2 linked regions of the Homo sapiens genome follow. The protein of the gene in region 1 purifies or fractionates together with the protein of each later gene. This does not show direct contact. Each region holds a gene or a part of one and is shown in the gene's direction. Other genes may lie near its edges.

What was found. Proteins that work in one complex are often made in the same cells at the same time.
Region 2: the proteins of ZP3 (region 1) and SERPINB8 purify together in Homo sapiens (affinity purification with mass spectrometry; one large-scale study listed by BioGRID and IntAct). This does not show direct contact.

The regions. Positions count from the first base shown.
Region 1 is NC_000007.14:76,437,536-76,442,702, forward strand, and holds the end of ZP3 (zona pellucida sperm-binding protein 3 isoform 1 precursor), read left to right. Parts: intron 1-2,714; coding exon 2,715-2,806; intron 2,807-2,939; coding exon 2,940-3,076; intron 3,077-4,306; coding exon 4,307-4,521; 3' UTR 4,522-4,534; downstream 4,535-5,167. UniProt on the Homo sapiens protein: Component of the zona pellucida, an extracellular matrix surrounding oocytes which mediates sperm binding, induction of the acrosome reaction and prevents post-fertilization polyspermy.
Region 2 is NC_000018.10:63,976,581-63,980,161, forward strand, and holds part of SERPINB8 (serpin B8), read left to right. Parts: intron 1-1,718; 5' UTR 1,719-1,728; coding exon 1,729-1,896; intron 1,897-3,220; coding exon 3,221-3,358; intron 3,359-3,581. UniProt on the Homo sapiens protein: Has an important role in epithelial desmosome-mediated cell-cell adhesion.

The DNA.
Region 1 (5,167 bases):
AGTGCAATGGCGTAATCTCAGCTCACTGCAACTTCCCATCTCCCAGGTTCAAGCAATTCTTCCATTCCAGCCTCCCAAGTAGCTGGGATTATAGGCACCTGCCACCATGCCCAGCTAATTTCTGTATTTTTTTTTTTTTTTTTAGTAGAGATGGGGTTTCACCATGTTGGCCAGGCTGGTCTCAAACTCCTGACCTCAGGTGATCCACTGACCTCAGCCTCCCAAAGTGCTGGGATTACAGGCATGAGCCACCACGCCCAGCCTAGACCCTGCTTCTAAAAGGCCGCTATAGGGGAACTGCCCTGGGATCTTAGACTCCAGTTAGCACCAGAAAAACATACTAGGAAAAAGCTAAGGATGAAAGTACATTTCCTTTGTGGAATAGACAACAGGGCCTTGGAAGCTTCTTACTTGCAGGGCAGGTGGCTAAGATGGGCAGCTGGACAACTGCTAAACTGGCTTGTTTCTAAAAGTCTGAATTTACATGGTTTCAAGTTTCTCTGCTGGTGTACTTGGCCACTAGGTGGTGACTGAGGCTTGTGGCTCTGAGGCTTCTGCTGGAAGGTGGCAGAATTGCCATGCTCTGCCCGAGGTTGAGCAGGGAGGAATTTTAGCCCTGCCTGAAATATGAAGGGAAACTGACCTGGGGACGGGCCAAGGCTAGACTGAGCCCTGGCTCTGTCAGAATGGCCCCTAGCCCCAGCAGCAGGATGGAATGTCAGTCTAAAATGAGAAGGCTTGGCCAGGTACGGTGGCTCATGCCAATAATCCCAGCACTTTGTGAGGCCAAGGCAGGTGGATCACTTGAGGCCAGGAGTTCAAGACAAGCCTGGCCAACATGGGGAAACCCCATCTCTACTACAAATACAAAAACTAGCCTGGTGTGGTGGTGGGTACCCGTAATCCCATCTACTTGGGAGGCTGAGGCAAGAGAATCGCTTAAACCTCGGAGGTAGTGGCTACAGTGTACTCCAGCCTGGACTAGAGACAGACTCCGTCTCAGAAAAAAAAAAAAAAAAAAAGGGTAGCGGGGCAGTGCTTACAGGGTAGTTGACTATTCCCTGGGTGGTGGGGGGTCTTTCAGCTCCCAGCAGGAGCTCATATTGGGTTCATTCCCTCGTACTTGTCTAACGAGGGTGGGTAAACGTTTCCCAGAGGCCAGGACTGTCAGGGTATCAGCCTGGTGAGTCTTCTGGTCGTCATATCCCTTACAGGTGAAGGGAGACTGACGTAGGCTTGACTAATAGCAGAGGTATGTGCAAGGAAGAAAAGCCCAGGGAAGCTTGCCCAAAGAGTGAGCCATCAAACTCAAGTCTGGCCGGGCGCAGTGGCTCACGCCTGTAATCCCAGCACTTTGGGAGGCCAAGGCAGGTGGATCACAAGGTCAGGAGTTCAAGACCAGCCTGGCCAAGATGGTGAAACCCTGTCTCTACTAAAAATACAAAAAAATTAGCGAGGCATTATGGCAAGTGCCTGTAATCCCAGCTACTTGGGAGGCTGAGGCAGGAGAATTGCTTGAACCTAGGAGGCAGAGGTTGCAGTGAGCTGAGATCGTGCCATTGCACTCCAGCCTAGGCAACAGCAAGACTCCACCTCAAAAAAAAAAAAAAAAAAAACCTCTTAAGTCTGAAATGGAAACTCCACAGAAGCAAGTCCAAAAGGCTTCTTTATGTGCCCAAGGACCTCAGGTCCCAGAAACAACTTGGTCTTGCCTTAGCTGGCAATACAGTGACTACATCCCTGAAGAAAAGTAGCTTGTCAACTAGTCAAGTGGCAGGTGGCAGCGTCAGAAGCCCAGCTAAGCTGCTAGCTATTAAGGTGTCTACCACTCACCTCGGTCACCTGGGGATGGGCGCGGGTTTAGCAATGCTGAGTTAAGCCCAGGACTGGCCAGGCACGGATAGCTGGCACCTGTAATCCCAGTACTTTGGGAGGCTGAGGCGGACAGATCACTTGAGCCCAGGAGTTTGAGGCCAGCTTGGGCAACATGGCAAAACCTCATCTCTGCAAAAAATCCAAAATTAGCCAGGTGTAGTGGCTTGTACCCGTAATTCCAGCTGCTCATGAGGCTGAGGTGGGAGGATCCCTTGAGCCCAGGAGGTCAAGGCTATAGTGAGGCATCATCATACCACTGTACTCCAGCCTGGGTGACAGGCCCTGTCTCAGAAGCCCAGGGTCAAGCATGCTCAATGATTGGGTAAGTTTGGAAAAGATCAGGGGAATAAGTGGTGGATTCCAGTCTAAAACTAGTTGCTACTTGCTCTAACATTGGGTAAGTGAACCTTTACACCATCTTAGAGATGAGGCTCTTCCTTCCCCCTGTTTATTTTATGAGACAGTCTCACTCTGTCAGCCAGGCTGGGGTGCAGTGGCATGATCTCGGCTCACTGCAACTTCTGCCTCCCAGGTTCCAGTGATTCTCCTGCCTCAGCCTTCCAGGTAGCTGGGACTACAGGTACCCACCACCACGCCCAGCTAACTTTGTATTTTTAGTAGCGATGGGGTTTCACCATGTTGGCCAGGTTGGTCTCGAACTCCTGACCTCAGGTGATCTACCCGCCTTGGGCTCCCAAAGTGCTGGGATTATAGGTGTGTGCCAATGCACCCGGCCCCTTCTCACTCTTTAAAGGGTTGAGGGTTATAAGAGAACTGGTGTGTTAAACTCCCAGGCACAGCCTGGAACTCGGCCTGGAAATAGCTGTTATTCCTTGCAGATATACATCACCTGCCACCTGAAGGTCACCCTAGCTGAGCAGGACCCAGATGAACTCAACAAGGCCTGTTCCTTCAGCAAGCCTTCCAACAGGTGAGGAGGACAGGTGCTCCGTGACTGGAGTAGAAACTGAATCGGCGACCCCTTGTCTATTTCCCCCAATATATTATCAGCAAACTGCTTCCTGCAGGCAACAAAAATCTAAGCTGCTTCTCTTTCATCTCAGCTGGTTCCCAGTGGAAGGCTCGGCTGACATCTGTCAATGCTGTAACAAAGGTGACTGTGGCACTCCAAGCCATTCCAGGAGGCAGCCTCATGTCATGAGCCAGTGGTCCAGGTCTGCTTCCCGTAACCGCAGGCATGGTATGTCACAGAATGGCCAAGAGGCTGTTCATTGTCCCTTACTCAGTTGAGGGTACCTGCTGTCATTTCAGGGTGATGGTATTTTCCCTTGTCCTCCATTAAAACTGTTTGTACCTAGGCCTGCAGCTACCTTTCCCTAACACAAATCTTGGGGTTAAGCAGGAGGGGCTCTCAGCCTTCCACCTCGGTGGCAGCCAGGGAGATCTGCTGTCATCCTAGGCTTCTACTGAGACATAATTAGGCATGTAGGGGAAATATAGCAGTTGTTAAGATAATCTGGCTTGGCATAGTGGCTCAGGCCTGTAATCCCAGCACTTCGGGAGGCCAAGGCGGGCAGGTCACCTGAGGTCAGGAGTTCGAGACCAGCCTGACCAACATGGAGAAACCCCATCTCTACTAAAAATAAAAAATTAGCTGGGCGTGGTGGTACATGCCTGTAATCCCAGCTACTTGGGAGGCTGAGGCAGGAGAATCACTTGAATCTGGGAGGCAGAGGTTGCAGTGAGCCGAGATTGCACCATTGTACTCCAGCCTGGGCAACAAGAGTAAAACTGTCTCTCAAAAAAAAAATAATAATCTGGCCAGAACAGTGGGTTGTGCCTATAATCCTAGCACTTGGGGAGGCTGAGGCCAGGGAAATCGCTTGAGCCCCATGAGTTCTCGACCAGCCTGGGCAACATAGCAAGACCCTGTCTCTACAAAAAAGATGATGTACTAGGGAATCCCTCTTGGGTGACCTGCTTTCTCCGTATGAGAAAGCTGTCTTTTTCTTTTTTCTTCCCCCTCCCCTGCACCAAGATGGTGTCTAGCTCTGTCCTCCAGGCTGGAGAGCAATGGCACGATCTCTGCTCACTGAAACCTCTACCTCCCAGGTTCAAGCTATTCTCCTGCCTCAGCCTCCCAAGTAGCTGAGACTACAGGCATGTGCCACCATGCCCAGTTAACTTTTTTATTTTCAGTAGAGACGGGTCTTGCCGTGTTGGCCAGGCTGGTCTCAAACACCTGACCTCAGGTGATCTGCCTGCCTCAGCCTCCCAAAGTGCTGGGATTACAGGCATTAGCCATCACACCTGGCCGAGAAAGCTGTGTTTTTTTTGTCTAGAAACTGTTTATTAGCCCACACAAAAAAGACAACATATTAGTTTAGCCCACTGAGGCAGAATAAAACCTCCAACCCAGTTCCCGGTTAGGGACTAAGATAACCCTTGGTTGTGTGTTCTCCTTTCACAGTGACAGAAGAAGCAGATGTCACCGTGGGGCCACTGATCTTCCTGGACAGGAGGGGTGACCATGAAGTAGAGCAGTGGGCTTTGCCTTCTGACACCTCAGTGGTGCTGCTGGGCGTAGGCCTGGCTGTGGTGGTGTCCCTGACTCTGACTGCTGTTATCCTGGTTCTCACCAGGAGGTGTCGCACTGCCTCCCACCCTGTGTCTGCTTCCGAATAAAAGAAGAAAGCAATATCTGGTCGTGGTGTGGTGGTCAGATGGAAGGTCAGAATTAGTACTGACTGTGTCGGGTGGGGACGACTGTATACCACCCGCCCCGTGCACTCACATAGCATAGTCCAGCAAGCACTACTGTGTCTCTACTGTAAACAGGGCAGGGTTCATGTCCTTAGACAACTATAATCTATCACCTCCATGGGAACCAACATGGAAACTCTTAGATGAAGGTCAGTCTGGCTGGACCCACCTTACTTCTAGGCTAGCAAAGAATCTTATATCTCTGGCCCCCATGGATTTGACTCTAGACATGGGAGTGGGGAGGAGAGAGCTTCCAGGCCCACTTCTCCAAGGCAAGCAGGCAGGCAGCTCTGTCCAGATGCTAGAGGCCAGAAGGCCAGTCATGACTGGGCCCTCCCAGTAGGGCAGTGATCAGAGCACTGCTTCTGCCTGGTCTTAGCTGTCACCTTGGGCTTGAAGCTATTCTTGGGACATGTTGGTATGAACTTGTCAAAGCTGCAGCAAGGGGTGACTGGCACTCCAAGCCATTCCAGGAGGCAGCCTAATGTCATAAGCCGGTGGTCCTGAGGTGGCTCTGAGGTGGGTACTTTTGCTTTGGGGGTAGGAAGCCTCAGGAGAGCTGAGAACC
Region 2 (3,581 bases), on another chromosome or scaffold:
AAAGAATTTACAATGACAAGTTCTCTAAATAAAATGCTTTAAGAAAAAGGAAGAAAGGGCCTAGAGGCAGGAGGAAGCCTGTTTAGTTTGTTTATTTAGTCAAGTTTAGGTTGTCTAAAGTTAATTCAAGCTGAGGGGAATGTTAAGACCCTCTTAGCCAGGAGGATCCAAAAATCAATGCATCTAATTAAAAGTGCTCCCTCGATGACAAGATTAGGGCTTCATATTTTATATCCATGCCTATGGACTTTCTTTGCAACTCCGTAACCCAGTTTCAGCAACTCTTGGGGAAAATGGGGCATCTTTTTGGAGTCACTTTAAAAAGTAATTTTTTTTTTTTTTGTCTTTCCAGTAGCCTCATATTTCAGGCCAGCCTATCTCAAACAAACCCTCCAAATTTGGTGAAATGTATCTAGCTGTTTTCACAGGAAGTGATGACAGAAATACAGTTTTTATTGATAAAGAATTACATATATAAGTTTTAGAACATTCTTTATAGATTATATTGGAGACATTAAACTGAAAGATAATTAGCAGCAATAGGGGGATTTTGTGTAATGATTAAGAATTCAGGCTCTGGAATCAAACTGTGGGTGCCAGGCGTTTATGACTACCTGAGGGTTCTGGAATGAGTTACTAAACCTCACTCAGTCTTCTCATCTCTAAAGTGGGGCAATAACTATACTGACCTCAATGTGTTATTGGGTGATAATGGAAAGTGCTGAAAACAGTGCCTGGCACCAAGATCTTTTTTTTTTTTTCCTGAGATGGAGTCTCACTCTGTTGCCCAGGCTGGAGTGCAGTGGCGTGATCTCGGCTCTCTGCAGCCTCCACCTCCTGGGGCTCAAGTGATTCTCCTGCCTCAGCCTTCCAAGTAGCTGGGATTACAGGTGCCCGCCACCATGCCTGGATAATTTTTGAATTTTCAATAGAGATGGGGTTTCACCTTGTTGGCCAGGCTGGTCTCGAACTGCTGACCTCAAGTGATCTGCCTGCCTTGGCTTTCCAAAGTGCTGGGATTACAGGTGTGAGGCACCACACCCGTCCGCACAAAGACCTTTTGGCTGCTGCTATACCAAGGGAGGAAGTAAGCAGGTGTTGCAGGGTGTCTGTGCCCCTGTTGCTAAGAGGGATACAAGTCATAGGCCCTGAGATTGGCTATTTTATGAATAAACCAGTGTTTTTGTTTCCTATTGGTGTGATAACACTTTACCACAAATTTAGTGGCTGAAAAATGACACACATTTATTATCTTATGGTTCTGGAAGTCCTAAGTCCAAAATGGTACAGCATAGCAATGTTATTTTCTGGAGTCTCTAGAAGAAAATCTGTTCCTTGCCTTTTCTGGCTTCTCGAGGAGGTTGCATTCCTTCATCAGTGGCCCCTATCCCTCTGACCTCTGCTTCCGTCCTCATGTCTCTGTCTCTGACTCTGCCCCTCCTGCCTCTCTCTTTTAAGGACGCTCGTGATTCCATTAAGCCCACTGGGATAACTCAGGATAATCTCAGATCTCAAAATACTTAACTGAATACCATTTGCAAAGTCCTTATTGCCAGGGCAGATCATGTAGTCACAGGTTTTGGGAATTAGGAGTGGAAGTCTTTGGAGGGTGGTTCTTCCACCTACCACCTCAGCGTCCACTGACTGGGGGATGAATGACTGCGTGGCTACCGGAGTCATTGGCTTATGTGCTTTTCCCTGCTGTGCCTTTGATGCAGACCTTCTCTGATGGATGACCTCTGTGAAGCAAATGGCACTTTTGCCATCAGCTTATTTAAAATATTGGGGGAAGAGGACAACTCAAGAAACGTATTCTTCTCTCCCATGAGCATCTCCTCTGCCCTGGCCATGGTCTTCATGGGGGCAAAGGGAAGCACTGCAGCCCAGATGTCCCAGGTATGTGTGCTTGTCACAAAGGAAGGAGAACAGTGTGTTTCCCTTGTGCTTCCATACAGCTGTCTTTCTGTACTTTTGCTCTAGCTGAGGCCTGTGGAGCTGGAGGTAGAAGGAGGAGCAGCTCGGCAGTGGAGAAGAGCAGAAAGGGGTAGAAAGGTGAAATGTGTTGGACAGATCATCTCCTCTGATGTTTATGGGAGAAGTCAAGCCATAGAGTTATTTTCTCTAGATCAGATCATCAATACAGTCTGGCAAATTCACATCTTTGATAAGTAGGATAAAGTATAATTCTGTCCCACAAGAAAGCAAAATATTCCAATTTTGTTACATTTTAAACTTTTGCTAACATTATATTTTTAATAGACATGTGGGTGCGTAGATTAACTTTTTGTTAAGTGGGTTATTTTAGTGCATGATTATGCATCCTAGAAGAGGAATGTAACACAAGTGTGGACTTATATCTTCTGGAGTGATTTGAGGAATATATAATCTGTTTGATTCAAAATGGTGATGTATGACCTTATCTACAAACGAGGTGTGGGATAATGCTTTAGGAACAGTTCTCTGACTATTGGTGAAGATGTCCCAGATAATTGCCAAATGGATATCATTTTGCCACCAATATCAGGAGTGTATAGACAGTCTCCTAAAATGCACCCAGGGACCCCAGTTGACATCCTTCTGTGGTTGTTTCTTTCAACTGATTGGAGGAGTGAGGCTTTGGACTGGGGGTGATCGAGAGATATAGGAATAACCTTAATTCTCACTCTGACTTGACATTTAATTTATAATATGGTCTGGAGAACTTCTGTAAAATTGCAGATGAAACATTTTTAGTTTTATTGCTGCTTTTGTTTGTATTACCCGAGTTGTAATTCATCCCAGTTACTTACTTTTTTCTGTTCTGCCTTCCCCCTGAATTATCGCACACTGCCTTGCTGGCATGAATAAATTTGCTAGACTAGTGGTTCTCACCTGGTGGGTGGGAGGTAGGGGTCGGTGGGTGAATTTTTCCTTCCTGGGGACCCTTGCGAAGACCTGGAGTTTTAGATCCCATAACTGAGAGGTGCTACTGACATCTAGTGGATGGAAGCCAGAAGTGCTGCAAAAATCCTACAATGCTTATATGAGACAAGGAAGTGTCCTGGCCCCAAATGTCAATGCTGCATTGCCCACGTTGAGAAACCCTGTGCTAGACAATTAGGCCAAACCTTTTTAAAGTAGGATCCTGTGTGGTTTTTTTAGTACAGAGGTTTGTTTGGAGAAAGCTCTTTGGGAGAGTATAATGGCAGCGTTAAAAGTCAGTGTTGGTTTCTGTTCCCAGGCACTTTGTTTATACAAAGACGGAGATATTCACCGAGGTTTCCAGTCACTTCTCAGTGAAGTTAACAGAACTGGCACTCAGTACTTGCTTAGAACTGCCAACAGACTCTTTGGAGAAAAGACGTGTGATTTCCTTCCAGTAAGTAGTATTCACATATTGATGACAAAGAAATTGAAAGTAAGTTAGACTACAGAAGAGCAGATAATAAAGTATAACTGTACTGACTTAAAACGTGCTTGGAATTACACTTCTGAAATTACAATTTTAGATTTTATGATGACTTCTGAATTACGTCCTTTGTAAATTGTTACTGATACACCCATCCCTGTTATCAATCCCAATATGTCAATTCTCCTGCACG